Regions from separate parts of the Homo sapiens genome. Here region 2 is linked to region 1. The links come from fine-mapping of genetic effects on gene expression. A gene starts in region 1. The other region holds a variant in brackets. All regions are shown on one strand. Distances are between the middles of the regions.

The links. PIP is the estimated chance that this variant, and not a neighbour inherited with it, causes the effect.
Region 2: its variant is the best candidate, but not a certain one, in a credible set for the expression of GABRP in tibial nerve (GTEx, PIP 0.55).

The regions. Positions count from the first base shown.
Region 1 is chr5:170,782,285-170,785,308 of GRCh38, reverse strand. GABRP (gamma-aminobutyric acid type A receptor subunit pi) reads right to left here and starts at 1,584. Exons shown (of 10, transcript NM_014211.3): 1 at 1,435-1,584. LOC107986475 (a long non-coding RNA gene) reads left to right here and starts at 2,253. Exons shown (of 2, transcript XR_001742978.3): 1 at 2,253-3,024.
Region 2 is chr5:170,807,868-170,810,367 of GRCh38, reverse strand. GABRP (gamma-aminobutyric acid type A receptor subunit pi) reads right to left here. Exons shown (of 10, transcript NM_014211.3): 8 at 1,616-1,768; 9 at 613-800. Among named protein-coding and RNA genes, the nearest start is that of GABRP, 25 kb to the right of the region's middle. The variant C/G (reference allele first, on the strand shown) is at 1,523.

The DNA.
Region 1 (3,024 bases):
CTGTTTTCCAAGTCCCTTTTCTTTGCCCTGCATTTAGGAGGAGGGCCTTCAGCACCCCCAAGCTGAACTGGATTCCACTTGAATCTTGTCCTTTTTATACCAAACCCATCTGGGGGATGGAGTGTTGCATCCGCAGCACATCCCAAGTGACAAGTGCAGCTGATGCCATCACTCCCTGTGGTAGACGAGCCAATCGTTAAGTGGCTATTTATGTGTCGGCCAGCCTCAATGGAGGCTCAGGCCACCAGTTCTGGTACAGGTGCTGGGGGATGGAATTTAGTGGAGAGGTACTGAGCCACCAGAGAGCAGTGTCCTAAGGGTTGTCCCCAAAGCTGCAACACAGATGTTGACTGGAACCACCTAGCCTTCTGCATCTGCAGGGACATGGTGCTCAGGAGGCCCTAGGAGGCTCCTGAGTAGGGGCAGCCTATGCATTATCCTGCCCCGAGGGCATCTCTGGCCAAGCTCCTACCTCCACTTGTAGAGGAGACCTTGAGCTCTGGATCCTGATACACCCGAGTCATTTAACCTCTCAGAGTCTCAGTTTTCCCATCTGACAAATGGGAATAGAAAGCATTCAATAAACATTAGTTTTCATTCTCCTCTGCCTTCCGTGTCTTCCATGGGAATTCAGTGATTCCACTATGACTAATAGAACCCAAATCTCAAGCTCTTTCTATTTCTATATACACCCCAGGTGCCACTCAGAGTGTGAGCTAACTGGCACCACCTCAGGAAGTACAGGGTCAGGCACAGGGCATTAAGGTCACATAGGGAGCTGATGGCACCTTTTTCTAAACCAGAAATCCAGCCTAATGTCTCCCAGTCTCCCCCGCCTCTTCCTGGCTTGGCCTACTGGGCTTCTATACTCCGTGCTCTTGGCCTCTATGTCTCTTTTGAAAACTTCCCAGGCTGGAAGCAGAAATAATTCCAATATGTGCAAGTTTCTACTACCGTTTCTACTCTATTCCCAGAATTTCTACCATGTAAATACAGTGACCCCCAACCCCAACTTGTCACCTCCAGCTTCCTTCCTATGCAGGCACAGTTTTCCTATCCTTATCACTTCAGCATAGACAGAATCATTTGTTGGAAAGCAGGAGTAGAGCCCGAATTAGGTTAAGGTGAGGAAAGGCATTATTGCCATGGGTCCCGCTTAAGAAAATCCCAGAAGATAAAGTGGTGCGGCGCGTGCCCTGTGTCTGCTGGTCTTGGCCAGCTGCTGCACAGGGGTGAATGACTGTGGCTGTAGTGAGGACAGCAGGGGCTCTAATCTTGGCTCTGCTGCTCGTCCTGCAGTGGCGCTCCCTGATGCTCATTAGGTGTTCAGCAGAGTCCAGGCCTGCCCCCTCCCTCGGTCCCAGCAGGGCTTGTATTTGGATCTCCCTCCCTCCCCTCTCTCCAGACACCTGGAGGGGCCAGCAGTTTCCTTACCAGGTAGTTGTTGAGGCTCTGTTAGGGCAAGTCCTTCAGGCCTACAGGCAGGACTTCCAGGCAAGGCACGGTCTTCTGGGTCCCCAGGGTTCTCCTCATCCTCAGCCCTGTCCCCTCGTATGTGGACACGCAGCCACCCTCAGATGGAGTGGCTCTCTGGGGAAGAATGGAGCTGCTAAACCTGCTGTGCAGAAACAGAGGTGGGCGGAGCCTCTCAAAGCCCCATCCTTGGTGGGGACACTGACTTGTCCTGAGTGTCTGGAGATCGTCTGGTCCTGAGTTTCTGGAGATCGTCAGCTCCTGCTATAGCTACTGCCTCCAGGGGTTTGATTCTGAGATCATGTCTCAGTCATGCTCCCAGACCTCTGCCAGAAAAGACCCCTGAGATCAAGGACCCATGAGAGTCAGATAAAGTGGGTGACCCCCACCCACTATGCCGGGCTCTGAATTTGGTGGACAGCCCTCCACCCTGGTGCAATGGAATGGCTATAGTGGCCACTTCACCTCCTTAGGCCTCAGCTTCCCATCTATAAAATGAGAAGCTGACTGTGTGTAAAACTCCGATTTCTTGTTGTGTATTTTAAGAGCATCTTTGGGATCAACAGAAGGCCTATTCTATGTTAAAAGAGACTTTCATATCCCAGGACCTAGTGCTTTCCAGCCTGGGAAGTTTCAAAAAGACTCATAGAGGCCAAGAGCACAGAGGATAGAGGCCCAGGAGGAGGAGGCGGGGAGACACAGAGACACTGGGCTGGATTTCTCCAACCCTCCACCTTCCCCCATCCTGCTCTCACACAGAGGATTCTTTAACTTCCCACAGAGTCCTTTCAGGAGCATCCCAGAGAGGGAGGCCTTCTTCCTCCCTGGCCAACCAAACCTCCTAACAGAAGTGCTTCGACAGTGCTCACTGAGCTCTGGGTCATCCCCTCATCATAGCCAGTGGCCCCAAACTCACTCTTGGCTCCAGCCATGCAGGTAAGGGGAGGGATTCCTTGGAGGCTTGGCCTTGCACCCTGAGGGAGCTGGGAGCCAGGAGGGACTCAGATGGAGGGGCAGAGAGAGAGCTGAGGCTGTGGTACGAGGCCCAGAGGCATCTCCTTCCCTCCTGACATCATGGCGAAGCTCCTGCCTAGACCCAGTCTAGGAGCCGGGAAGGGAGAGAGAGAAAGGAAGGGGAGCAAATGGAGGGGCAGGAAGGGGAGGGCCACAGTGTACAATGAACCATAGATGCCTTTGGCCCCAAGCCAACTTCCTTAGTGAGCTTCTGGAGCCTGGCCAGCCTGGAAAACATTGCTCCGCTGGTGGGTAAGGAGTGGGCACCTAAAGAGACAGCGCTTTCATTTCTCCTGAGAGGACTCACTTTCACTTGGGAACCTTGCTGGTGGCTAGAGCAGGAATGGCTGAGGAGCCGGTTTCAGGTTCTCAATGAATAGACAGTGATCTGGGGCTTTTCTCAAAAAGCCTAAGATATTCTCACACAGAACAAAGGCTCCAGAGTAATAAAGACAATTCAGAGCTGGGAGGTGGGGGTGGGAGGGTTTCCTCTGACCCAGGAACAGTGAGACTTAGATGAAGGAACATGGGCTGGCT
Region 2 (2,500 bases), 25 kb before region 1:
CATTTAAAATAATATAGTATTTGCAAAAGGCTTGTTACTGTGTCTGGCACATGTAAATGCTTGATAAATAATGACTATTATTATTATTTAGAGAGCTGGACTATAGTGTTCCATTGCTAAACCAAATAATGACAGTTTTTCTCAATTAGCAGAAAAATATGCTCACCAAGAAATTTGTCACAATCTAATATTTCCATACATTTTTCAGTAAAGCATTACTTGTATAATTTAAGGACAAAATAATGCAACAAAAGAATTAAATAGTAAATATATATTAATATAAAACTTGCAAGCAGCTGATCATGTTTTTTTCATATTGGATTCTTCATGGATGCTTGCTCCTGTGGTTGTGATTTTATGCTGCATACAGATAACATATTTTCTGCTGGAAAATTAAACATATTAATATCTCATTGTATTTGGTGAAAAGAATGGTCTTTTTCAAGGGGCACCATGACTTCCAGCTGCTCCCACCTGAACAAGGATAAGACTCACTGGAGCACAGGGAATCACTGCGGGTGGGGTGGGGATAGAAGCCAGGTCCAGCCCATGTCTACAGATCAGCACACGGCACCAGTGATGGATCATACACAGGGCCCTCAAGACTCTTACCCTATCTTTGGCTGCCATCTGCTGTAAGGAACTGTAGTGAGCAACTGCATATTCTAGCAAGGCCCCAAACACAAAGCTAAAGCAGATCCCCAGGTACACATCGATGGCCTTGATGAAGCAGTTGGTGTTGGGAAGAGAAGTGCGGGACCCGATCATCAGTGTGGTCATTGATAACACGGTCGTCACTCCTGGGAAAACAGGCAGGGGATGTTCCTACAAAGTGACTGGTTAGTCCTCCACCATAGCCTGGCAGAGTGTCCCCATTTGAGAATTGGCAGGGTGAGGGCAAGACCCAGAAATGGAATGCATCTCATTTTGAAAAGTCTGCGACCTTCTAGAATAGGGTTGATTTGTCCATTTTGTACAGATATGAGGGATGTGTTTTTTTTTAATGTTTCACGTTCTGTCTTCTCCTGGGAGGGGGTGATAAATATGCAAAAGAACTGACAATAGACCATCTAAGCACAATGATCCCTTACTTGTCACTGTAAAACTTAAGTTTAAAAATGCACCACTCCTGGCAGGGCATAGTGGCTCACACCTGTAATCCCAGCACTTTGGGAGGCCAAGGTGGGCAGATCACTTGAGGTCAGGAGTTCAGGACCAGCCTGGGCAACGTGGTGAAACCCCATCTCTACTAAAAATACAAAAATAAGTTGGGCATCATGGCACATGCCTGTAGTCCCAGCTACCTGGGATGATAAGGCAGGAGAGTCACTTGAACCTGGAAGGCAGAGGTTGCAGTGAGCCGAGATCACGCCAGTCCACTCCAACCTGGGCAACAAGAGTGAAATTCTGTCTCCAAAAAAAAAACAACAACAAAAAACCCAGAATCCTAAAGTAGTCTCTTTCTGTCTCTCTCTTTCTTTCTCTGTAAAAGAATCTCCCAAGAAAACAACTCTTGGAACTG[C/G]CTTAGGAATATCAATGAAGACAATGGTAAAAGGAAAAAAAGTAAGTAACCTGATAAGCCAGTTCTTAGAAATCTCCTGTTGGAGCTGCTTACCAATGCAGGTTCTTGCAGGGACTGAATCGAGAGAGATCCAAAATGAAACCCAGGACAACACCACCAGGAAAGTGGAAGGAACGTAGGTTTCCAAAATGAAATACAGAACATTCCTCCGAAGCTCAAACTGTAAGACCAATCTAGTGTAATTTCCTGAAAGGGTAAACAACAGATAGGAAATTGTGTCTGTTCGTGTAGCAAGTGGTTTCTCTATGGGATGCTTAACTATATGTACATTAAGCCCTCTGTCATTGATCTAAATCTGGTTATGTATGAACTGTCATTATGATTTCCACAGGAGACACTGCTGTTGCATTGAATGGGATTTATAGGGGCGCTGTCCTGCCTTATGTCCAACCTGGGCTTTTCTGAATCACAGTATTCCTACAGCAGTGCAATCAATACTGGTTTTCTTGACGTCTGCCTCACTAGACAGTGAGTTCCTTGGGGGCAAACACTGAATCTTTCAGTTCTGCACTCACAAAGTAGTTGTTCAATAAATACCTGTTTAATGAAGATTACCTGTGACCATCTGTTTCTCAAGGAATACTATGGAATAGACCTAATGGACCTATTAAATATAAGTGAATTTTTGATGATTTCAGAGGCACCCCAGATTTTATACTACTTCAGGGCCATCCTTAGGGAATCTAGCAGTGTATTCTAGATGTGGGAAAGGCATGTGTTAGAGAGCTATCAGTAACAGAATTCTCTGTGGTAAATAGGCTACTGTAGCACAAAACATATATGTCCATGGGTTAGAGTCCCAAGCTCTGCTCCTGCTGTGCTTCTATTATGGGGAGGTGAGCAGTAGTGGCCAGCACTGGTGTGGATGCATGAATGAAGAGGTTATCCTCTGGGAACAGGAAAAGTCTGGCTTAGATT